7 linked regions of the Homo sapiens genome follow. The protein of the gene in region 5 interacts with the protein of the main gene of each other region in a biochemical or structural test. Each region holds a gene or a part of one and is shown on either strand. Other genes may lie near its edges.

The links.
Region 1: the proteins of PTPN3 (region 5) and SLCO1C1 interact in a test that uses a peptide from one of them, tested with the Homo sapiens proteins (one large-scale study listed by IntAct).
Region 2: the proteins of PTPN3 (region 5) and RCN2 interact in a test that uses a peptide from one of them, tested with the Homo sapiens proteins (one large-scale study listed by IntAct).
Region 3: the proteins of PTPN3 (region 5) and ARHGEF7 interact in a test that uses a peptide from one of them, tested with the Homo sapiens proteins (one large-scale study listed by IntAct).
Region 4: the proteins of PTPN3 (region 5) and FLVCR1 interact in a test that uses a peptide from one of them, tested with the Homo sapiens proteins (one large-scale study listed by IntAct).
Region 6: the proteins of PTPN3 (region 5) and KIRREL2 interact in a test that uses a peptide from one of them, tested with the Homo sapiens proteins (one large-scale study listed by IntAct).
Region 7: the proteins of PTPN3 (region 5) and MYOZ1 interact in a test that uses a peptide from one of them, tested with the Homo sapiens proteins (one large-scale study listed by IntAct).

The regions. Positions count from the first base shown.
Region 1 is NC_000012.12:20,733,332-20,736,831, reverse strand, and holds part of SLCO1C1 (solute carrier organic anion transporter family member 1C1), read right to left. Parts: intron 1-3,500. UniProt on the Homo sapiens protein: Mediates the Na(+)-independent high affinity transport of organic anions such as the thyroid hormones L-thyroxine (T4), L-thyroxine sulfate (T4S), and 3,3',5'-triiodo-L-thyronine (reverse T3, rT3) at the plasma membrane.
Region 2 is NC_000015.10:76,934,749-76,938,248, reverse strand, and holds part of RCN2 (reticulocalbin-2 isoform a precursor), read right to left. Parts: intron 2,724-3,500; coding exon 2,527-2,723; intron 1-2,526.
Region 3 is NC_000013.11:111,275,810-111,279,309, reverse strand, and holds part of ARHGEF7 (rho guanine nucleotide exchange factor 7), read right to left. Parts: intron 1,724-3,500; coding exon 1,637-1,723; intron 1-1,636. UniProt on the Homo sapiens protein: Acts as a RAC1 guanine nucleotide exchange factor (GEF) and can induce membrane ruffling. Functions in cell migration, attachment and cell spreading. Promotes targeting of RAC1 to focal adhesions. May function as a positive regulator of apoptosis.
Region 4 is NC_000001.11:212,885,775-212,889,274, forward strand, and holds part of FLVCR1 (choline/ethanolamine transporter FLVCR1), read left to right. Parts: intron 1-2,116; coding exon 2,117-2,227; intron 2,228-2,714; coding exon 2,715-2,820; intron 2,821-3,371; coding exon 3,372-3,483; intron 3,484-3,500.
Region 5 is NC_000009.12:109,488,308-109,491,807, forward strand, and holds part of PTPN3 (tyrosine-protein phosphatase non-receptor type 3), read right to left. Parts: intron 1-3,500.
Region 6 is NC_000019.10:35,855,598-35,859,710, reverse strand, and holds the start of KIRREL2 (kin of IRRE-like protein 2 isoform c precursor), read right to left. Parts: upstream 2,801-4,113; 5' UTR 2,592-2,800; coding exon 2,531-2,591; intron 2,367-2,530; coding exon 2,217-2,366; intron 1,304-2,216; coding exon 1,154-1,303; intron 1,008-1,153; coding exon 847-1,007; intron 231-846; coding exon 80-230; intron 1-79. UniProt on the Homo sapiens protein: May regulate basal insulin secretion.
Region 7 is NC_000010.11:73,631,475-73,634,974, forward strand, and holds the end of MYOZ1 (myozenin-1), read right to left. Parts: intron 3,260-3,500; coding exon 3,010-3,259; intron 2,592-3,009; coding exon 2,426-2,591; intron 688-2,425; coding exon 456-687; 3' UTR 138-455; downstream 1-137. UniProt on the Homo sapiens protein: Myozenins may serve as intracellular binding proteins involved in linking Z-disk proteins such as alpha-actinin, gamma-filamin, TCAP/telethonin, LDB3/ZASP and localizing calcineurin signaling to the sarcomere.

The sequences.
Region 1 (3,500 bases), on a different chromosome or scaffold from region 5:
TAATATACTTCTGTGCAAAGGTGTATAAAAATAGCTAACAAGGTAGAAAAGTAAACTTTTAGAGCAATTTATGACACTACTTCAATGCATCACAGGTGGGGTGTGTGTGTGTGTTGTGTGTGTGCAAATTTCATTCAGAATTGTTGTCTAAGTATGAGTGGAATGGATATTACTAATGGTCCAGTAAAAGGAAAAATAGCCAATCAGTTATCAGTTAATTCTCTTTCAGTGTTTGCAGGAGTTACATGTCCTCTTGCATGTGTGTAACCAACAAGTGCATTCCCAGTTCATTCAACCTTTCTCCTGTGTATCCTCCCAGTGTATAGTGCTCTTTCATATCTTATAGCATCCTTTCTTACTCAAATTCACAAGTAAGTTCAATGACTTACCCATTTATTTGTTGATAAAATTTTACTGGAAGCCTACTAAGTGCTAGCTCCGGGAGAATAGGAGATGGTTACAAACATTAATGAGACAAAATTTGCACCCCCCCCCAAAATTGGTTTTTTTGAGTTATTTCACAAAATTGTGATTGCATTCTTTCTTTTCTCCTTCATTTTTTTTTGTTCTCTGCCATTCGCTTTTATATTTATCCTTCATCTCTCCCAGTATTCTCTCTCCCTCACTTTTTTTTCTGTCACCTGAATGGCCTAATCCTTCTGCTTTTATCCTTTTTTTTGCTATTCATATTCCTCTACTCTTCTCAAAAGGAACTTTTGCAATGGTATGTCATTTCTATCTGCACCATATGTGCCATTCATTGGCCCTCCATACTTCATTTTTTCTGCTCCTTATTTTCAAATTTATTTATTTGCTTATTCCTCATATCTTTCCTCCCATTTTTTATAAAGATAGCTGAGGAGCTTAAACAAACAAAAAATACACTGAACTGTACAATCAAGAGAGGCAGGAACTATTTTTGTATTCACTCCCATATGTCCAGAACCAGGAATAATTCCTGTCACACAGCAAGCTAAGAAACAAAATTTCCAGTAAGTTAGTCAATTAAAAAATGGTACTTTATTTTGGAGAAATAAATTAATCACTTGAGCCTCTGCCTCTGAGAAGTATTGTCATTAATGATGGCAACCATAATTTCTTAATCAGTGTAATACTTCATCTAGTAGAACTGGTATGATGAATTTTGTCACCTCAAAAGTACAAACCAAAGACCTCTGAGATGTCTCCAAATAGTGTGAAAGGGTACTGAACTAGGCCTTCTGAGATGTGCTATAGGAATGTTTAATCCTATTCTCTTCCATAAAATTTTAATTGTTAACTGAGACTGTTTGTATTATCTGAAAGTATAAAACTGCCTTTTAAAGTCTAGAATCATTTAACTCTGGAAACTGTAGGGCTGAGATTATAGAAGGTTGGAGCTGGAGGGAACATTGGAGTAATCTATGCCAACCTCTTACTTGGCAGATCAAGGAAGTCAGCCCCTACGTGGGTGGGTAACATGCTCAAATTCACACTGCTTGCTAGTGACAAACCTGGAAACTGAACCCTGCCAGGTTTCTTGATTGTAAATTCTTATGTCCACATCAGAGTTGTCCTTGTTATTGCAGAAGAGAGATTTCTTCCATTATCATATCTAAGACTTGTCTTCAGTTTTCCTATTGAATATTCAGGTCAAGACAGCGTTTGGAATAAAGCAACATGGAAAAACCCATGGGAAACATTTTATATTTTATAAAGAAAAATACTTTATAGTATTGAAAGTTTAATTTATCATCAGGGGCAGGAATCATTGGGATACATCTTTTCTGAAGGATGTGCTGACAGTAGATTTGTAATTTAGAATTTTAATTATAAGACGAGTTTTAACAAATATGCCAGAATGTTTATGCCCAAATGAGATTTCCTTTCAAGATAGTTATGCTGAAAGATGAGAGCTTTTCCTTAAAGGTTAAATCTTTGCCCTTGTTAAGAATATTCTCAAAAATATACAAAGAAATTCAAAATAAGAGTCTTAGAATATTTTAAACAACAGTAGCATTACTGCAATACAATTATAGTCTTTCAAGGTGACTCCTTTGAAGAGGCTAGTACTCACTCAATGAAAATGTTACCTTTTATTTGTTTAAAATATTTAATCTTTGATTATGTAGGAATACTTTTAATGGGAATCTCAAAGTTTGCTTTTGTTGTCTGCTTTGTGTTTACTTTTGGCTTAGAAATTATGATGCAGAAAGAATGTTCTACTTTGAGTCACGCCTGTGTTCAAACCCCAGATCCATGCAGTTTCTTTTAAACAAGGATAACAAAACTAAACTCATAAAGGTGTTTTGAGGATATAATGAGATCATGAAAGTTAAGGTGTTTTGGAAATCACAAACTATAAAGTCCTCTACAACTGTCCCTCTACCGTGAGGATTTCTGGGACAGTTAAAGATGGCACTGGGCTTCTGCTCTCTCCAGAATCATCTTCCATTTCATTGTTACAACTAACATTCTTAATCCATATCACTGACTTTCACTAAGGCAGCACTACACTCAGCTGAGTCTAACAATGTGGCTGTGATAACTCCCAGAAGCCGTAATTTATGAACTTTGCATTCACCAATCTTCCTGAACATTGTAGATGGCCAAAACTATAACAGGCGCTCATTTAGCAGCAGATGAAACCAGGTTAATAAAGGTGATGGAAGTTGGAACATAGAGACAAGACAGATAAGCAGGGAAGCAAGAGTAGGACGGGAGATGGACAGCAGGCTGTAAGCAAGAAGCCACAGAATAGGCAGGAAACAGAATATAGTGTCAGGAGTGTTTGCTTTTGAGCCACAGGCAGAGTTTCAGGTGGCCAGGCAGATACAGTTGGGAAGGCCTTCCTGGCACATGATGGAGACTCGATAATTTTTTTAGAAAACAAATAATGCATATATAGGTGAAATGATGAAGAAAGTTACCTCTGGAAATTCATGTGAAGTGGTAGAGTGATGGGAAAGACTCTCAATGGGCAAGGGCAATATAGTTCCTACAAGATTCAACCTTGTATTGAGAGAGACTCTGGAAACCAAGCAATGTAATCACCCACCCCATACAAGATGAGAGGCCTGAAGGCATCACTAAATATTCTCCTGACCAATTGCAAGACACTCAGCTAAAGAGAACTTTTATGGGGAACACTGGGTTGAAGGACAGGCGTTGTTTCCTGAAACTTTACATGATTCAAGCACAACAGCAACTATGGAGGATTGCAAAGAGGTAACTCCAGTTCCTCAGATGTTCAAAGGAGGAAGAAAACAATTGTTTCCATGAATGGCACATTTAGCTTGTGTCAGGCAAGTAGCATTCACTTTCATGTATGTTAGCTTGCTTAAACCTTACAAAAGTTTAAAAGGTAGTTATTACTTCTGTTTTTAAGATGGGAAAATTGAAGTTGGATTAGTTTAAACCACATGTACATCATTTCATTAAGAATAGACAGAGGCATTATTCAAGGTTTGTATTTCTGCTATCATGTTGTTTTTCTAAATTAATCAGGTTGGTTCTCTAGT
Region 2 (3,500 bases), on a different chromosome or scaffold from region 5:
ATTATGGCCACAACAAAAATTAAAAGGTATATACCAAAACAGGATAAGTTAAGAAACAGAAGAGCCTTGAATATTTTCCAAGCACCCTTGACTAATATTTTGGGACAGTTTGCAACAGCATGTTTGATTTTATTTTTATGTTTTTCTACACATAAAAACTATCTTAAAAAAATTCTTGGTGATCCTCTAATTACCCTGATTTGATCATTATAATATACGTTTGTGTGATATCAAAATATCACATGTACTCTGTAAGTATGTATAATACAACTATCATGTACCTATAAAAAAGATTTTAATTCTTTAAAATTAGCTTTGAAATACAAAAGTATTTGATATATCAATTTCTCAAGCTCACAGTCATTTCTGTTGATATACTTTTAGTTTAATAGACTTCCTAGAAGTGTTAAAAAGTTCCTAATTCCTAAATAAAATTAGTCTTTCTCAGCTCTGCTTAAGAAGCATATATTTCAACAAATTAAACCATGAGACACATTAGAACTCACACAGATACTAAATTTTCAAAAAATGAGTAATTTGGGGCCAGGTGTCGTGGCTTACACCTGTAATCCTAGCACTTTGGGAGGCTGAGGTGGGTAGATCACTTGACCTCAGGAGTTTGAGACTAGCCTGGGCAAGATGGTAAAACCCCATCTCTACAAAAAATACAAAAATTAGATGGGCGTGGTGGCTTGAGCCTGAAATCCCAGCTACTTCGGGGGCTGTGCTGGGAGGACTGCTTGAGCCCAGGAGGCAGTGAGCCGAGATTATACCACTGCACTTCAGCCTGGGCAACAGAGTGAGATACTGTCTCAAAAAATAAAAATAAAAAAAAAAAAGGAGTAATTTTAAAGGGTGTACTCACTATGAAAAATGGTACTGTGGTTTCTCAAAAAATTAAAAATAGAATTACCGTATGATCTAGCAGTATCACTTCCAGGTATATACCCAAACCAATGGAAAGCAGGATCCCACAGAGATTTGCAAATCCCAAATCCAAGATGCTTCAATGAGCATTTCTTTTGAGTGTCGTGTCAGTGCTCCAAAAGTTTCATATTTAAGAGCATTTTGATTTTGGAATTAGGGATACTCAACCTGTACATACAACAGAATATTACTTTGCCTTAAAAAGGAAGGAAATTCTGATGCATGCTACAAAATGGAAGAATCTTGAGGATTCTAAGTAAAAATAAGCCAGTTACAAAGACAAATACGGCGTATGATTCTACTTAGATGAGGTACCTAGAGTAGCCAAATTCAGAGACAGAAAGTAGAACAGTGGTTGCCAGGAGCTAGTGGGAGGAGGGAATGGGGAGTTATTGTTTAATGGGTAGAGAGTCTCCACTCTGTAAGATGAAAAGAGTCGGGGAGATTGGTTGCACAACACCATGAATGTACTTAATATTACTCAACTGTACACTTTAAAATGGTTACAATGGTCAATTTGTTACACAGTCCTCCCTCACACATTCCTGGGAAATTGGTTCCAAGACCTCCCTATCAAAATCTGAGAATGCTTAAGTCCCTGATATAAAATGGTGCAGTATTTGCACATAGCCTACACACATCTTCCTGAATACTTTAAATCACGGACCCTCAATCCCTAGGTCGCGGACGGGTATTGGTTCATGGCCTGTTAGGAACTGGGCCACATAGCAAGAGGTGAGTGGCAGGCATTACCGTCTGAGCTCTGCTCTGCCTCCTATCAGATCAGGGGTGGCATTAGATTTTCATAGGAGTGCAAACCCTACTGTGAACTGTACATGTGAGGGATCTTCGTTGCGCACTCCTTAGGAGAACCTAATGCCTGCTGATCTGAGGTGGAACAATTTCATCCTAAAACCATTCCCCACCCCCCCGCCACACACTGTCCCGTGGAAAAATTGTCTTCCATGAAACTGGTCCCTGGTGCCAAAAAGGTTGGGGACCTCTGCTTTAAATCATCTCTAGATTACTTATAATATAAATTACAACTTAAATGAGAAATAAATCATTGTTATACTATATTAAGGAATAATCAAGAGAAAAAAGTTCTGTATATGTTGAATAGAGACACAGTTTTTTTTTTTTTAATACTTACTTTTTTGGATACTTACGATTCTCAGTTGTTTGAATCCACAGATGTGGAAACCGCAGTTTTTTTAAGTGAGTATATAAAACTATGTGTTTAAAAATGGGAATGGGCCATAATGGCCTTCTTAATAAAGATAAAACTGATTATTCAATGATATTAAAATATTGAGATACTCATTCAAAACACATTTAAAAAGCAACTCTGGAAATGAGGACAATTAAATGATGCAGCCGAGAAAAACAGATAGAAGGATCATGTAGGTAATTTAGAATAAGAGTCCTAAATCTGGCCAGAAAGGAAACCATCAAAATGACTGCTGAAGTGGAACAGGTGATTTCCTAGAGAACAAGACAATCCAGCTTATGACCTCAGGCCCTCAATGTGCTCATTCATGCAGGAAGGTAAAGTGAACTGACATGATCAAAAGAAACAGCTTGTGCACATGAACTCACCTTCCTAAAGGACTCCTCTTCTGCATCATCCAGAGCAGTGTTCTCATCAAAGTCAATCACACGATCATACATCTGAATGTTATATTCATCCCAAGTCACAGTATCATCACTGTTTTTATCATATTCAACAAACTGTTGTTTTGCTTCTTGCATAGCATAATGCTTAAAAGACATCTGAATCCATGAACTGAGTTCACCTATGAGAATTTCCCAGAACACAACGCATGTGACGTTAATTCTGATACTTAAGAGTAAGGATTTCCAAACCTTCTCTGAAAAGGCAAAATCTTTGATGTTTGCAAATACTGAGAATTGGCCTAGTTGTATTAATAGAAATGGGGTAGGAAGTGGGAAAGGCTGTTTAGAAGAGCTCATGAAGCTTTTAATTATTTTTTTTTGAGATGGAGTCTCGCTCTTTCACCCATGCTGGAGTGTGCAGTGGTGCGATCTCAGCTCACTGCAACCTCTGCCTCCCGGTTCAAACGATTCTCCTGCCTCAGCCTCCTGAGTAGTTGGAACTACAGGCATGTGCCACCACACCCGGCTAATTTTTTGTATTTTTAGTAGAGACGGGGTTTCACCATGTTGGCCAGGCTGGTCTCTAACTCCTGACCTCGTGATCCACCTGCCTCGGCCTCCCAAACTGCTGGGATTACAGGCGTGAGCCACCATGCCTGGCCGGAGCTTCCATACTATAACATATGATCTAAATATAATGTAAGCTCCATAAAAGTTTGGGTATGTTCTGTTCACTGATGTACATCAAATGCCTGGAAAGTTCCTGGCTCTGTAAGTATTTGTTGAATGAATTACCAACTGGCCAAAATAGCACTTTACTTTTAAAAAAAATGTTATCCAAAATCTTGCAGAAAACCTTTGCTAACTACCACAGATCTCTCAGGAAGCATAAATATTTTGATAGCTATTTATTTTAGTATGTATGAGAAAAAACAGTGTTTTTTATTTATGAAGGT
Region 3 (3,500 bases), on a different chromosome or scaffold from region 5:
ATCCAGTCCAGAACGTCAGCAGTGCCCAGGCTGAGAAATCTCATCCTAAAGCATGGCCGGTGGAAGAGGAGACTGCTGGACACTTCTGTGGCCAAGCGTATTTAAAAAATGCTACACACTGTGAACTCCTTTCCAAGATTCGTAATGCATATAAGTACTTTAACAGCTGTAAGTCCTACAGAAAATGAAACCGCACAACTGTGTTTAACCTAGCCCCTCTGAACATCGGTGTATAGAACACTATGACTGTGGCTGGACCGAACACTTTTTGGCATCCCCCAAAGCCAGTGTTCTAATGGTAGAAACGGATACCAATGATACAGAGACCATGGGTCACCACTGTGCTAAGAATGGAAAAATAAAATCCTGTTGTTGAGATGAGCTCCAGCAGTCTGTCAACACATCAAGGGCAAATCCAGTGTAAGCACCAGCCACACAGGCAGAGACTCAAGCCTGCCACAAGTGACAACCTCTTCTCTCCTTAGGTTAGAGAAGGCCCCTGCCTCCAGCCACTGGAATGAGATTCTGGGGATATAAAATCGGAAGCCAGATAGTGCTGACCAGAAAGGACAGAGATTTAGGTTTATCAAGGTCATTTAACACAGAAGTAGCTGCTAGTTTGGGGGAAACTGTAGTGGGCACTATCCTAGCCACAGATCACCTCTCTTCAGCAGTGGCCTAACAAACTACAGCCTCACTTTCCTGAGTCTGTTCCTACATATGTGATTCACCAATTCTAAAGCACGTGTGTTGGTGTAAGCGTATGGCCACAAGTCCTCTCTGGGTGTCGGCAGAGCCTCTGTGAGGGCATAGTGTCTGCTTAGGGATCTTGAACGTCCTTGCTGCGCCAACACAAAACAACACGTGCTACAATGAAATGCAACCCAGAGAACACGAAGTGGCGGCTTCTGCTGCAGTGGTTACGTGGTGACTGGCCAGTCCTCAGAAAGTTGATGGGAAGGATATGAGCCTCTGTAACTTCCCAGAAAAAGAAGAATGAAACCTGCCAAGTGCATCTACTAGACAGACAGCGAAAATACCAGCTCCTTCATATACCACCACTATAAACCACTGTCGCAACAGAAAAGGCCCTGCTCACCCTTGCACCTCCTTCCCAAATCTGCTGTCACATTTTCTCAAAGAGAAGCAGGGAAACAAAAATTAAAAAGGTTCAACGATCACACACTGCTACTTACACCCTTACATCACTTTCTGTTTGCTGATGCATTTGGGCGGTGCCGTGCCACTGACACAAGATCTTAGTCTACACTACCCCACTAACCCACAAGCCCTACTTGAACCAATTTCACAGAATAAAACCATAGCAAGGAGGAGCAAGGTATTTTGCATGAAACGACAGAAGGCAATGACAGAGACTGACTTGTGCCACAGTAGTCTGTGTCCTTATGAGGTTGCTCTACAGTTTACACTTCTTTCCTTTTTTGAAATTAACATAGGATATGCTTGCAGTCACAACGAAACACAAACAGGAGCTGTACGTCCATATCTGAATATACAGCACTACACACACAGCACATACACAGATAGATACACGTAATATTTAACACAAAATTCAAAGCCAGTTTGAAATTATCCTCAGATCCACAATAAAATATAAATTTAAATTGTGTTTTACCTGATAGATAAAGCCACTCATCCTAGGACTGGCAGACAACATTAGCAAAACATTTGGGAAGAGTAGAAGATATCTTTCATTCTTTTCCTAATACAAAAAAAGAAATCCAAAACATTTCTTAAAAAACATCTACTTAACAAATGTGAGCACAAATACTTCACTTATTTATACTAGGCCCTATGAAACATTACATGATATTTCTCGTTTAGGTATTTCTATCAAGTTTTATCAGGTAAATTAAATGGAAACAATTATGATAAATTCTGTATTAAGTCTTAACATATGATTATGAGAGAGCTTTAACATATAGGTAAAGAGAAGGACTTCCAAATTCTTCAAAAAACAAAAGGTAAGAAAGTAAACGGACTGATTAAAAGATCCTGGACTCACAATTAGCCTGTGTAACATCTTGAAACTATATTTGGTTAAAGAGTTCAGCTCTGTGATTAACTATTTTCAGGTAAGCTAAAATTTTCTTTTTCTGGTTCAGAGAAAAAGGAGAGAACCTATAAATTTTAATGGGGTCAGGGGGAACAGGTGGAGTCTTTAAGCTAAAGAAAGGATAAAATGTTAAAATCAATTTTGGTCTACTAGTAATTCCTGGCACTTCCCAAACCTCCCAAATGTCGACTCAGTGTTGTTTTCATCCACCCCATAAACATCACCTGGTTTACATCAGACTTAAAAGTATTACTTATGTATTAAAAATCATTTGCTTCAGTAAGATAAAAGCCAAAGAGACCATAAGTGAAAGAAAAAAGTTCCTAAGAATCCAAAAAGAGACAAAAAAATGCCACAGTCCTTTTCACATGTTGACATTTAAACTACGGCCCAAAAAAGTGAAATCAGTCCTAGGAATTAGTTTCCCCAAGTATATTCCTCAGAACATTAGGCTTATGCAAAGCACCTTGAGAAAAGAGTCTTCCGTACTTTAAAGAAGTCACTGAGAACGACTTGCTATATTCCCCTCTTGAAGAATCACAACATACATTGGGAACATTCACAGCCAAGTCTCTGAGGAGCTCTATCATAAAGAATCTTTTCCACTAATTACGTTCAGTCGTGATCAGAACCACTCTGAAGCATTTTGGAGTAACACCCACCAGTGCTGTATAGATCTAATATTATAAAGAACACACTTTGGGAAATGTTTCCACAGATTAAAGTTTAAAAGAGCATGACTCAAAAAGAAACTTCTTCTGAAAAGATGTGAAGTTTTTATAATCATGGTTTCTTATGGTACCCAAACTACAAGACTATGTAGAAGGGGTGATATTTTACAGGTGGAAAGGAAAACACACTATATAAGTTTGAAGTTTTAGTTTTCTTATTCTCCTTGGAGTCTTGTGTTCAAAAATGAGTCATTTCGCATGTTTTGATCATGTTATTTTTGCAAAGGTAGAATAAAATTCAGAAAGAGGTGCCTGTTCAGTGACCCATTGAATGTATGTCAATGTGAATCATGAAACAAACTGCTCGATTTTCACTGTGTGGGTGGGTATGTCCCAAAAATCTGGGTTGATCTCTCACTTAAACCAAACCTGTAAGAAAACTGTGACTCCTGTAAGCATATGTCAGCTAGCATACTTTCACAGGAAAGTATAATGACCCGAAAGCATTGAGAGCAGCAGGTCCCTGTGAGAGTGAGCCTTGGTACAAAGTTGCTGGCCAGATAAGCGCATACAGCTCCATGCGGATGTGTGCACAGGACTCCTGCAAGTCTTTCTGCACACTATCTATCCTTCAGTTCACGTGGGCTTCGGGCCACACTGACTTCAGCTGGATCAAACTGATCAACAAGTCCACACTCAGCTCTAAGCCTCTCTAACATGCCATAAGCCTCTCTCCTGTGTCAAGAATAAAA
Region 4 (3,500 bases), on a different chromosome or scaffold from region 5:
TCTCCTGACCTTGTGATCCACCCGCCTCGACCTCCCAAAGTGCTGGGATTACAGGCGTGAGCCACCGCGCCCAGCAACAAGTGTTTCAATACTCTATGTATTGTATTATTTTATTGGTCACATTTATTTCAATTCTGAGAACTTGGATACCTTATGAGCCCCTTCTTTCTAACAGTACTCATACCTACCACTTCCGAAGGAATTATTTCTATTCTAAAAAGAGCCATTTCTGAGAAATATTTGACTTTTGATAGACTTTATCTTGTTCTTTTTTTTTTTTTTTTTTAGGTGGGGTCTCACTCTGTCACCCAGGCTGGAGTGCAGTGGCACCATCTTGGCTCACTGCAACTTCTGCTTTCCAGGCTCAAGTGATTCTCCCACCTCAGCCTCCTGAGTAGCTGTGACCACAGGTGTGCGCCACCACACCCGGCTAATTTTTTGACTTTTTGATAGAGACAGTGTTTCACCATGTTGCCCAGGCTGATTTTGAACTCCTGAGGTCAGGCAATCTGCCCACCTCAGCCTCCCAAAGTGCTGGGATTACAGGCATGAGCCACTGCACCTGGCCTATGTTGTTCTTTTTTTATGTTGTGGGCTTAAATACAAAAACAAAAAAGTAGTTCTTTCCAATCAAAAAATTATTGTTGAGCATAAGGCTTTATTTTGGTAAGAACTTTTTGGCTAAAGTACGCCCAGACTACAGTACCACTTAACTGTAATATAATGCATAATGTGAAAATGCTGGTTTGACACAATGTCTTATGCCTGTAATCCCAGCATTTTGGGAGGCCAAGGCGGGTAGATTGCTTGAGGCCAGGAGTTCGAGACCAGCTTGGGCAACATGGTGAAACGCCATCTCTACTGAAAATACAAAAAATAGTCAAGTGTGGTGGTGGGCACCTGTAATCCCAGCTACTCAGGAGGCTAAGGAAGGAGAATTGCTTGAACCCAGGAGGCAGAGGTTGCAGCGAGCTGAGATAGCGTGCCACTGGTCTCCAGCCTGGGTGACAGAGCAAGACGCTGTCTAAAAAAATAAAAAAAAAAGAATATACTCTGTTAATTGTACATTATATGGAACCACCAAAAGGCTAATACCAAAGAAAATGAATGATACCAACTGGGAGACTAAGAAAGGGGTTTCAGAGGCAGCATATTTTGCTCTGGGAGTGAAAAGAATCACCACATTTTGTAACATGCCAAAACTTACCCCTGTACTTGGAAATGAATGAATGAAACTATTAAGGAATAAATGAATGAAATATGGAACTGTGTCCCGTGTACCTTTCAAGGCTCAAGATATATTTGATATTATTAGTCTAAACGCTACCAAAAGTATCTCTAATCTTGAAATTCTCCATATTCTTCCATAATTTAAGACAGCACTTGCCTTAGCTTCATTATTTTAAAATGATAGCTTAGAGTGAAACCTACTTGATATATAGATGAAGGGAGCATATGTAAAGGATTATATTTCTTAAGTCTTTCATCCGTTATACATTTAGAAAACTTGATAGGCATAGATGTGTGTTCTTTGCCACTGTGGCTTCCTTCTCAGGGTAACTGCCATTCATTCACCAAACTCCTGTTGTGTGCATCTTTCTTAGATGAAAATTATGGCTGGCATTATGTGATCCCTGTTCTTAAGATGTTTGTGGTCTAAATGGAGCAAATAAGGCATTCACATGTGAAAAGTTAAATAATATAACAAACTAAAATAGATGTCATAAGTTTTATAGTGCCAGTATGATAAGGGAATTTGGAAGAAAGAGAGACTCTTATAAACTGGTGTCGTTACAGAAGGCATTTGGAAGAGGTAGAATTTGATCTGAATCTTGAAATGTGAATAGGGAACTATCCCATTTGGTGGCATAAAAATGATTTTATTCCTATAAAAGGATCCTATCTGAGCATTCGATATGGTGTGGTTTTCTGGTGCTGCTGAATCTTAAATTAAAAATGCTTTAAAATTTGTGCTTTGGTGGATACATATTTCCATGGACAAGAAGGGGTGAACTTTGAAAAACAAAGATTCATTACTGAACAGGTAAGAGTGATGATTTTTGTATTCCTAGGAGAATCAGACAAAATACTAACAGCTTTGTTGTTTTTGTTTTAGACAGACTACTCTGATAGTTTATATTTTGTCTTTTATTGGAATGGTTATCTTTACTTTCACATTGGACCTTAGATATATTATCATCGTGTTTGTTACTGGAGGGGTGCTTGGGTAAGTATCAGATGTGTTTAGGAGGAATGATAGCATGCTGTTATAATTCTGAAGTATTATTACTCTGGTCTTTAATTTTTTCAGTTCATCCAAAGTTTCTTCAATATTTTAAACTTTAAAGGATTCATTCTATGCATATAAACATGTAATTCTTAAGAACTATTAAAAATTATTTAAAATTGGTTTTTGGTATACCATAGGTAAAAAATGGATGAGCCTTACTTAATCTGTGTAACTTTATTTGGTTACAATCAACTTATAAAACTAGAAGTAAATTTTTCTCAGAAAAAAATGTGTATTTGTTGCTTCCAGTTCTGTAACCTTGAGCTGATTGGTCAATGATAATAGTTCCTTACTTTGACATAGCAACTTCAAAATATTCACTTATTTGGTCATTAGAATAAGCCCGAGAGGCAGAATGATTGCATCAGTATGTGATTGTGACTTTCTGGTAGTTCTTTCTGTAATTCTGGATTTATTTTCCTAGCTTCTTCATGACTGGTTACCTCCCTTTGGGTTTTGAATTTGCTGTTGAAATCACTTACCCTGAATCTGAAGGTACTTCATCTGGTCTTCTTAATGCTTCTGCACAGGTAAACCTCTGATTTCTCTAAACCTGAGATGATTATTATACCAGATATTCTAGTGAGTAATGAGTTTGACCATGGTTTTATTTGTTGTTGTTGTTGTTTTGTTTTTTGGAGACAGAGTCTTGCTCAGCCATCCAAGCTGGAGTGCAGTAGTGCAGTCATGGCTAACTATAGCCTCAAACTCCTAGGCTCAAGCAATCCTCCCCCCTCTGCCTCCAGAGTTTTTGGGACTGCAGGTGCACACCAGCATGCCCAGCTAAATTTTTTTTGTTATTTTTTGTAGAGATGGTGTTTTGCCATGTTGTCCAGGCTGGTCTCGGACTCCTGGGCTCAAGCAATTCGCCTACCTCAACTCCCAAAGTGCTAGGATTACAGTGGGTGTGAGCCACTGCACCCAGCCTGACCGTGGTTTTTGTTTTAACAATTCAACTTTTCAATGAATGTTTCTAGAAACCAAATCATATAACCAAAATAAGAAAAGTTCTGGTGAAAACTTTATACTTGCTTTAAATAATTTAACTTAATAACGAATGATTTTTCTTATTGTATTTTAGATATTTGGAATTTTGTTCACATTGGCTCAAGGAAAGCTCACATCAGACTATGGTCCTAAGGCAGGGAACATTTTTCTCTGTGTCTGGATGTTTATAGGCATCATATTAACAGGTAAATTAGGGCGTTTG
Region 5 (3,500 bases):
CAGTCTGGTCTCGAACTCCTGACCTCAGGTGATCCACCCGCCTCTGCCTCCCAAAGTGCTAGGATTACAGGCATGAGCCACCGCACCAGGCTGAAAGTACATTTTTAAGCAGTAAAATCTAATAACACAGTTAACCAGAAAATCTTTCCAACATTCAGCAGTACTAGTATCTTGCATTCTAGGAACCGGAACATTCCTTTACTAACTGGCTTTTCCATTAAAGCTGCTGATGCCTAGAGTAATAAAAACACGACTGCACTGGACAGTGTTCTTAAAGTTCACATGACTGGGATGCTTCCCAGAAAATAGCTCCATTATCTTCACATTTTCATCCTATAATAATTTGTAATCCAGGAAGGCAAGGTTTGTATTTTCTTCTAGGCAGAAAATAAGTTAAAGAACCAGACTGTATGGATCCCAGAGCCTGACCCCTTGACCGAGTGTCTGGTCACTTGATATTACAAATCTAGACTTCCTGATAAATGGCCCTGTAGTGACCTTGTTACTGGGATCCCTAGATGCTGGTTTCCTGCCTGGTTTCTCTGCATCCAAGTCCCTGTCTGCATCTACTGTCCATCCAATGCCCATCCTCTTCTGCCTGGGTCCCCAATGCCACCTGCTTCCCTGCCTTTGCCAAAGGTCAGTGACTTAGTCATCATCTCAGAACTAGGGCTGGAACAGGGATGTGGGCGTTGGTGCAGGAAGAAGAGGTGGAAGTGTGAGCACTAGAGGAAAGAAGATAAGGTCTAGGGTGACTCCCGCCTCCTGCCCTTCTTTGCTTACACACCCTGGCTCTTAAATTCTATTAGAAATTGGTCAGTGGGAAGCACAGCTGGCTTGTTCATCTCCCTGTCCATCTATCATAAACTCTGTCCCTGCTCCTCCATCCAGCCAGGGTATGTGAGTGACGTTCCAGACTCTGCCAGTCCTTGTGGCAGACAGGTACCATAGTGAGGTGAGAGCTGACAAAAGGCCGGTGTGGCAGGCACAAAGCTGGGAGTGGCATCCTACTGGAGGTGGGACCACAGAGGTGTGGGGACCAAAGCCACAAACATCAGGCCTGCAGGCCATGCAGAGGTTAGTTTTGTCTTTATCCAGGTAGAAGATTCCTAGTGCTAGAGGGTTTTCCATGCTGGCTCACCCTGCACTGATCTCAACCTCGAAGTCACTCTTAAATCCGGACGTGACCACACGTCCGGATTTACCTAGGGCAGTCCCGGCTTAGACCCGTCAGTCATGTGCAATTATTAATAGGACCCCTTTTTATTCTCAAATTGTTCTGGTTGGGATGATAAATTCTAGTTGCACTGTTCTTGGGGGCCTAGGCCTGTGAAGTCAGTGCTGCAGTTAGAGAAGTCTACCCATGATTAGCAGGGACGCCCAGCCTGATGAGTCTCACCCCTCATCAAACATTCCATTTGCCTCTCCAGTATCCCTGCCAAACCATCATCTGGCTTCTGCTTGTATATCTGCAAGGACAGCAGGCTCACTATCTTCTCAGGAAGCCTCTCTTTTTTGGGGAAAGCTTTGTTATAAAAATAGCAGGATTCAAACCTGTATACAGTATGACTGCAACTAAATAACAACATCCAGGCCGGGTGGGGTGGCTCATGCCTATAATCCCAGCACTTTGGGAGGCCGAGGTAGGTGGATCACTTGAGGTCAGGAGTTCTAGACCAGCCTGGCCAACATGGCAAAACCTCATCTCTATTAAAAATACAAAAAATTAGCTGGGCGTGGTCGTGGACACCTGTAATCTCAGTTACTTGGGAGGTTGAGGCAGGAGAATCACTTGAACCCAGGAGGCAGAGGTTGCAGTGAGCCGAGATCGCGCCACTGCACTCTAGCCTGGGTGACAGAGCAAGACTCCATCTCAAAAAAAACAAAACAAAAACAAAACAAAAAAAACCCCACATCACTCAGCAGGGAAAGGCGTGGGGCTGGAAGAAAGCAGAAAACCTGCTGACTTTTCCCCTTGCACCTCCTTCCATCTCTCCCTCTCCTCATTCAACAAATATTTACTGAGTGCATTTGATGGTCCAGGGACTGTGCTTGGCACTGGGGACAAAATGGTGAGTTAAAACAGACTCAATGTGAGGGGCATTCTACAAAATAATTGGCTTGTACTTTCCAAAAACGTCAAGGTCTGGCTGGGCATGGTGGCTCACGCCTGTAATCCCAGCACTTTGGGAGGCCGAGGTGGGCGGATCACCTGAGGTCGGGAGTTGGAGACCAGCCTGACCAACACGGAGAAATCCCGTCTCTACTAAAAATACAAAAAATTAGCCGGGCGTGGTGGCACATGCCTGTAATCCCAGCTACTCAGGAGGCTGAGGCAGGAGAATTGCTTGAACCCAGGAGTCGGATGCTGCAGTGAGCTGAGACTGAGCCACTGCACTCCAGCCTGGGCGACAGAGCGAGACTCCATCTTGGAACAACAACAACAAAAAAAGTCAAGGTCCTGAAGGACCAAGAACAATTGGGGAACTGTCTTAGTTTAAAGGAAACTAACGAGACATGACAACCGTACGCAACCCATTTATAAGAGTTTTTTTTTTTTTGCTATAAAAAAGGACATCACTAAGACAACTGGCAAAACCTAACATCTAGGCCGGGCGCAGTGGCTCGGGCCTGTATCCCAGTACTTTGGGAGGCTGAGACAGGCAGATCACTTGAGGTCAGGAGTTCGAGACCAGCATCCAACATGGTGAAACCCTGTCACCACAAAAAATACAAACATTAGCCGGGCATGGTGGCACACGCCTGGAATCCCAGCTACTTGGGAGGCTGAGACAGGATAATTGCTTGAATCCAGGAGGCGGAGGTTGCAGTGAACTGAGATCACACCACTGCACTCCAGCCTGGGTGGCAGAGTGAGGGACACTCTCTCTCAAAAAAAAAAAAAAAAGTATATAAAACTTGAGGTTTATAGATTAAACAATGTTGTATCACTATTAATTTATTGATTCTAAAATTTGTATTGTAGTTACGGAATATCATCGCTTTTAGGAAATATATGTAGGGGGAAAGGAGGCATTGATAAATAATCCTCAAATGGTTCAGGATAGATATATATGTACACAGGGATAAAATAAAAAGAATAAAATGGTAATGTTTGGGGAATCTGGGTGAAGAATTTATGGGACTTCTTTGATTTATTCTTACAACCTTCCTATGGGTCTGAATTGTATCAAAATAAAACATTAAAAGAAAAAAAAATAAAACTTAGAAAAAGTTTTTTTAAAAAAGAGACCCTGCCTTCACACAGCTTACAGTGTAGCCGGGAGACAGGTACTAATACAAATAATTACATTAATTAACTGCAAAATTGCCACTAGGAAAAGTGCTATAATGGAGAGAGATCTGGTGGCATGAACATTTATAGCAACAATTTAACTCAAGTCAGGAAGGTGAGCAAAGGCTCTGCAATCATGGAGCTGAGACCCACAGGATGAAGTAATCAGTGGGGAGGGGGAGAAGGTCCCAGGCTCTTGCAGTCC
Region 6 (4,113 bases), on a different chromosome or scaffold from region 5:
AAGGGCCACAGTCCCCTCCTTCCTCATACCCAGGAGTCAGGGCCCCACACCCCTCTTTCCCAGGGCCAGCTGCACTCACACTGCAGGCTCAGTGTGATAGCTGTGTCTCTTCCTGTGGGCAGGGCCTGGCTCCGGGCCCGGCAGACAAAGGTGGCTCCATCATCATGGCTGAAAGGGGTCAGGGTTAAGGTGCTCTCCACTGACCCAGGGGTCCCTTCCTTCAGCAGGGTCTGGAGGGAAGGATAAGAATAATAATGCCATCTACCCATCAGGGGTGTCCAATCTTTTGGCTTTCCTGGGCCACATTGGAAGAAGAATTGTCTTAGGCCACACATACTAACACTAATGATAGCTGATGAGCTAAAAAATTACAAAAAAGTCTCATAATGTTTTAAGAAAGTTTATGAATTTGTGGTGGGCCACATTCAAAGCCATCCTGGGCTGCATGCAGCCCATGGGCCGCAGGTTGGACAAGCTTGCCTTACTTATATAGTGCTCACTATGTATTGGTCACTCTTCTGGGCATTTATAGGTATTTATTTATTTAATTCTCACAATACCCTATGACATGCATGCTACTATTATCCTGATTGTATAGATAAGGCAACTGAGGCACAGAGAGGTTAACTAACTTACTCAAGATCAATCAACTAGCAAGTGGCTGAGACATAATTTGAACCCAGGTAGTCTGGCCCTAGAATCTTTACCCTGCATCATATTTCAAGAGTCCAAACCCATGAACCTCTGCCCTCCCATGTCTTCTTCTCTTCTGGATGAGCCTGTGGTCAGAGTGTAACCCAAGTTTCCCTCAATGGGCAAAGGCTAGCACAGGAATTTGGACCTGACCTGATGGAAGGTGGCTCCATCCAACAGGACCCCATCTCGGAACCACAGCAATTCAGGGGTAGGGCGGGCATCCCCACGGCTCCGACATGTCAGGTTCGCAGGAACTCCAGCAACCAGAGACACAGAGGGGCCGCCCAGCACCTGGGGGGCTTCTGGGGGGACTGCAAGGTGGATTTGGGGTCAGAGATGGATCCTGATCTTCTCAGCTCCAATTGACCATGCCCCTGGGCTCCCTGGGCTCTGCTACTCACAGCTAGTACGGGCTGCCCTCTTGGGCTCCCAGGGGACAAGTGGGCGAGGTCCTTACCCAGCACGTGCAGTTGGGCTGGTCTGGAGCGGAGGCCTGCTTGTGTAGCCTGACATTCATATGATGCTTCATCCTCTAGCTCCACGGGCCTAATGTGGAGGTCATGCTGGCCATTGGCTGCATTCCCTGATATCCAGTACCGGGACCACCCTGGAGTCAGGGAGAAGGCAGTCAGCACACCATGGTTCTGAAATCCTGGCCTCAGGCCTCCATCCCCAGACATCCTCCACCAGAAAACTGGCCCACACATTTGGTGGTAAGACACTATTAAAAAGTGTGTACTGGGCCCAGAGAGACTCTAACTCCCTCCCAACCCAGAGTCACTGCAAACTTAGGGGTAATAAAGTCAGGAAGGAAAGCAAGAAAATGATTGCCATAAAAATTAGGTTAGATACTACTTCTGGAGTGAGGGGGAGGGGGCTATGATAGGGGAAAGGAACACGGGGTCTTCTGGGGAGCTAGCAATGGACTTGGGTATTGGCTGTGTGTGTCTATTTTATTTGGTAAATCTTCCATTTATATTTACTGTACTTTTTTGCATTTATGTTCTCTTTTTTTTTTTTTTTTGAGACAGGGTCTCACCATTGCCTGAAGTGCAGTGGCTTGATCATGGCTCACTGCAGCCTTGAACTCCTAGGCTCAAGCAATCCTACCACCTAAGCCTCCTGAGTAACTGGGACTATAGATGCACACCACCATACCCGGCTAATTTGTTTAAAATATATATATACATTTGTGTAGAGATAAGGTCTTGTTATGTTGCCCAGGCTGGTCTCAAACTCCTGGTTTCAAGCGATCCTCTGGCCTCAACCTCCCAAAGCGTTGGGATTACAGGCGTGAGCCACTGCACCTGGCCTATGTACTATTTTGCAATAACATAATAATTCCCAAACTCCGTGGGTCACCCCCAAAGAAGCAGCTCAAAAATCAGGACTCCTAAATGTTTACCCGAGCCCATCAATTTCCCAAACTTGAAAATGTCAAAATAGAAACTGCAGGTACAGCCGAGCCCAGCAACTCTCCCCCTAGCCAGCCCGTCCCAGCGTGGAGAGAACACTCTTACCTGGTAGGTCCCTTTGGCCCCCTAGGGCCAGCCCACTCTTAGTCCACTGAACTAGCCCCCAGTAGGCGCCCAGAGCACACGGCAGCCGGGCTTCCTCCCCCAGCAGCACCACCAGGTCCTCTGGCTGTTGCAGGAAATGGGGCGACGGGCCTAGGAGAGTTCGGGGCAGCAGGGCTGAGCTTAGCACCTTCAGGGGCCTCCTCATTCAGGACCCAGGAGTCCCAGCCCCCAGCTCCCTTCTCGCTAGTGAAGAGGCAGCCCGCAAGCAACTCCCCACCCCCACCCCATATTCCTCCGCTCCCCTCGTGCGGTACCTGCTCTCCCTCTGAAGCAGAAGAGGAGGACGAGGAGGGCGGGGACCCGCATCCTGAGCATTCGTCCCCCAAGGTTCACGAGATTTGCCGTCGCACTGGCCTTCCCGTCAACTTCTTCCTCTCAAGCACGCCTCCTGTCACCCTGGCCCGGAGCCCCCTTCACGCTCGACTCTTCGCCCAGCCTAGTCTCTGGCCTGGAGTCCTCCAAGTCTGCTCATCCGCAGCCTCTGACGCTCTGAAACGCCTGCCAGTTCCGCGGCCTGGGTCTCTGGGAGACCCCAAGAGGGCCCGATCCCGCTCGCCCCGCCCGGGTCCGCCCCCCGGGAGCTCCGCCCTCTTCCCGTTGAGAAACTCCCGCGGCTGAGACGCGGATGAATGGGGGACGCAGGGCGGGATCCCCCGGCGGGTGGGCGCCCCCAGCTCAATTGGGGTCTGGGAGCCGGAACACCTGGGTTCGAGGAGGGAGGGGGTCCCGGCTGGGTTGGACACCTGCGCCCTGCCGGGGTTGAGGGGCAGGCAAGGGGTGAGGAGGAGGGAAGGGAGAGAGTGGAAGAAACTTGCTCAGCCCAGGTCCTAGAGGGACTGCGCTCAGTGGAAACTGAGCTATAAATGGGAGCTCCTGGGGCCTCGCCAGTTTCCGCGCCCTGGGGGATGCGGGGTCCGGGGCTCCCCCGGGCCTGCGTGTCGGGAAGAGGGCACACCGATACCTGGGGGACAGTTGGGACCCCTACCTCGACTCCCCCAGCCTCAAAACCCCTCCTCAAAATATCCCTCTGTTCCCTTGTTATTGCTGCAAACTACAGCACGTCCTAAGACCCAGGAATCCAGGCCCTCGGCCCCTCCTTTCCCAGGACCCCGCAGTCCCAGCCCAACCCCTCTCCCCACTCGGCCGGCCGGGCCCCTCGGCCTGGTTGCCCGGCGACGGCTGGGAGGCGGCGGTGCCGGGCCGGGGCAGGCAGGGAGGCTGGGAACCGCGCAGCTTGTCCTGACGGCTCCATGCAGCCCAGCTGGGGCGTTCCCACGCTGCGCAGCTGGCCGAGCAGGTGGGAGGGACCCCGAGCAGCCTGAAGGAGGGCTGGGGGGCTGGGACCCTGATCTGACATTCCTGGACCTGTAAGAACTGGAGGGTCCACATTCAGATTCTCCACTGTTCTTAGGCTCAGACTCCGTGTCCCTAAATGGGGGAGTGGGGTTGGGAGTGGGGGTTGGACTTACAGGGTTATAAGGGACTGGTGGTTCAGGCCTTTGCTGGCTGAGACGCTGATGGCCTGATCTCCCGGTTCCTTGAGAGGCTGGAGACTCAAGGTGCACTCAAGTGCATGGTGCACTTGGAAGAGGGTGACAGGGGTCAGAATATCTGGTCTTAAGTCTTAAGAGTCGGTGGATCTATCTGCCAATCTCTCCCCACCCCCACACAGGCCCAGGAGGATTTGGAAATCAGACCGTGAACATCTGTCCTAAGTCCTGTGTGTATGTGTGTGTGTGTGTGTGTGTGTGTGTGTGTGTGTGTGTGTGTGTGTGTGTATGGGGAGGTGCGGGGGTGGGTAGTGTGGCCAGGAGGATCAGAGGCCCAAATTCCCGAG
Region 7 (3,500 bases), on a different chromosome or scaffold from region 5:
CGTCTTTGTAAGTAACTATGAATGTGGTTTTGTGCGTATGGGTGTAGGTGTGTAAGCAACTGGAGCTCAGATCTGTCTTAAAGTTTGCATAATTAATGTTTAGTATTTGGCTTTAATTAGTCTCTGTGCATTGTTAGCCTCGGCTTTCATCTGCTCTCAAATATCAAAGGAAGAATGAGTTCATTTTCCTTGAAGTTTATTGACTGTTACTGGTGGCAGAGCAAATTCCATAAACGAGCAGGTTCCATATGGAGCAAGTAGAAGGGGAGCTCTGAGTTGGTGAGGAAGGATGCGTGGAGTGGGGACTTGGAGTAAAGGATGGAAAGGTAGATCTCTCCTTTTTCCCTCCATTCCCATAAGGATACTGGATTAACAATGGGGGCTATCTGCTCAGCATTCCCTCTCCAAATTGGAGCCAGAGAGGGGAAATGATGCAAATCAGAGGAGGAAACACCTCACAGCTCCTCTGTTTCTCCATCCAAGGGGATGCCAATATCCACGTTGTAGTCTACAGGCTCCCCAGAGCTCAGCCAGGGAATAGGGGTTCGATTGAAAGAAGGCCTGTTGGAGAGGTTTTGGTTGTAGAGGACCAGGGGTTCACTCAGCAAGGGCCCCAGGTCAAACTTGGGCATCTGGAAGGTCATGCGTTTGGAGGCCTTCTCATATCCACCATAGGGCATTGCCGTCCTGAGAAGGGGACACATTATTTAATTAAGAATCAGAATAAAAGAAACAGAGCCTTATCATGAGATGCTACCCTCTTTGAGAATAGGGAAGTCTGTGAATTCTAGTTTGGGATTGCATCTGTACTCCTTCTTCTTCCTTAGCATCCCATTTTGCCTTCCTGGTTAGCTTGTTTCCCCAAAGCTAATAATGAGAAAAGGAGTCTAGTGTGTACTAGAGACTCTTGGATAGCTGTGACCCAGACCAGCATTTCAGAGAAAGTGACCCCAAATACTATAGACCCAAGGGCCTGAGGTCACCTTACATGACAATGTAGAAAGGCCAGGTGCGGTGCGGTGGCTCACGCCTGTAATCCCAGCATTTTGGGAGGCCAAGGTGGGTGGATCACTTGAGACCAGGAGTTTGAGACTAGCCTGGTCAACGTGGTGAAACGCCATCTCTACTAAAAATACAAACACCCCCCCCCCAAAAAAAAATTAGCTGGGCATGGTGGCGCACCCCTGTCATCCCAGCTACTCAGGTGGCTGAGGTATAGGAATTGCTTGAACCCAGGAGGTGGAGGTTGCAGTGAGCCGAGACTGCACCACTGCACTTCAGCCTGGGCAACAGAGCAAGACTCTGTCTCAAAAAAAAAAAAAAAAATTGCAATATAGAGACCCCCTCTCTCCAACCCTAGTGGACAGTGGATAGCCTGGCTAAGAGTAATTATTGTTGCCTGGAAAATCCAGGCTCCTTAGGACCAAATACAAGAGTACCTTTCTAGCTCTTCCCTATCCTTTCACACAGACCTCCTCTCCATGGGCTAGAGAAGCCTAATTCCAAAAGAACAGAGACTTAGAGCCATCTAAAGCAGGGTGGCCAGGCATGGTGGCTCACGCCTGTAATCCCAGCACTTTGGGAGCCCGAGGCGGGCAGATCACCTGAGGTCAGGAGTTTGAGACCAGCCTGGTCAACATGGTGAAACCCCATCTCTACTAAAAATACAAAAATTAGCTGGGCGTGGTGGCGGGTGCCTATAATGCCAGCTACTAGGGAGGCTGAGGCAGGAAAATCACTTGAACCCAGGAGGCGGAGGTTGCAGTGAGCTGAGATCATGCCACTGCACTCCAGCCTGGGCAACAAGAGCAAAACTGAGTCAAAGAAAAAGAAGGAAAGAAAGAAAAGAAAAAAGTATAAGGAAATAGAATCATATTACAGGGAGAATAATGGCATCCTAACCTTGAATGGAAGAGAGCCTCAAGAGGCCTTCAGACATGTAAAATGTTATTCGCATTTAACATTCAAAGCAGGCCGGGCACGGTGGCTCACCCCTGTAATCCCAGGTCTCAGGTAGGCAGAGGCGGGAGGATAGCTTGAGCCCAGGAGTTCGAGACCTGCCTGGGCGATATAGCGAGACCCCATTCTCCACAAAAAGGAAGCAAAAAAAAGACAAAAAATAAATAAGTGTAACGTTCAAAGCAACCCAGGCTCAGAGGTAGAGTGATTTTCCCATGCCTACACAGCTAATAAATGACCATTGAGCTAGAATTCAAATCCTGCCTCCCAGCAAATTTTTTCCTTCATCACACTGCTATGATGAAGCTGAGATAGAGTGAAAAGAGCAGGGCCTTTGATTAGGACCCCCATATCCCTGCCATCTCTCCTTAGCCTCCTTCTGAAACATTTGAATTAGTCTCCATCCTAACTAAAGACACAGTGCCTCACACTAGAATGCATCTGGTTCCTTCCTCACCACCCCTACCTGTTGAAGGACTTATATTTGGGAAGTTCAGCTTTGGCCCCATAGGCCAGCAGGTCAATGCCAAGTTCCATTTTTTGCTGGGGGTCAACCCCCATGGCTCGCTCCCATGGGGAAATATAGGTCTTGAACACAGTGATATGTTTTCCTTCTCCGCCTGCCTGGTCTCCTGGTAGCCATGGGAGAGAAAATTCAGTCAAATAATAGCATTTAGTAGCCAATGAAAGGTAATCCCACGCCCCTACACTAGGGAAATTGCAAGAGCCAGGGACTAAAGATATAATATCCTGGTAATTGTATAAGGTTTGTGGCATAATGATAGTCTGTGGGCAGATCTGTGACTGAATCCGAAAAGCCAGGAAAGTAACTGAAAAACAAGGCTTCTGGGTAGAATAGACACATCTCTATATACTCCTGGACCCAGGTAATTCACCAAGATATTTATGATATTTAAACTGATATTATTATATTTAATATTAAGATATTTAAACTGACCTCCTCTGCTCCCCACACTCAGCGTAGACATCATTCCTGGGACAACTCTGCTCTAGGGACCAAACACATTACTCTTGGGTGAGTGTACTTGCCTGATCCTGTCTCACCAACCCCTGCTGTGCCAGCAGCTCCTCCTCTGCCAGCCTGGCCCGCGGGACCACCTGTACCCCCAGCTCCAGACCCAGAGCCCAGATGGTGCTGCTGATCAGAGCCATACTGTCCGGCAGAGCCACTGCCCCCTGCCTGGCTGCCGCCTCTGCCGTTGCTCTTGCTGTATGAGAATCCCTGACCAGCTGTGCCCAGCTGTCCCCCCACTGTTGGAAGGAACTTCTGGAAGTGATCCTGAAAAGAAGACAAAGTGAGGGGAAGGTTAGCAATGGGTATGGAAAATATACAAAAACAGAGGTATGTTTAGCAAAGGCAGAAATAGTGGCTAACCAGAAGACCCTGAATTTTCTGATATTTCCCCCTCCAGTTGATGGGTAGTACATGGGCTGACTAAGAGAATTAAACTCTTCTTTTTGTTTGTTTGATTTTTTGTGGTTTTTTTTAGACAGAGTTTCGCCCTTGTTGCCCAGGCTGG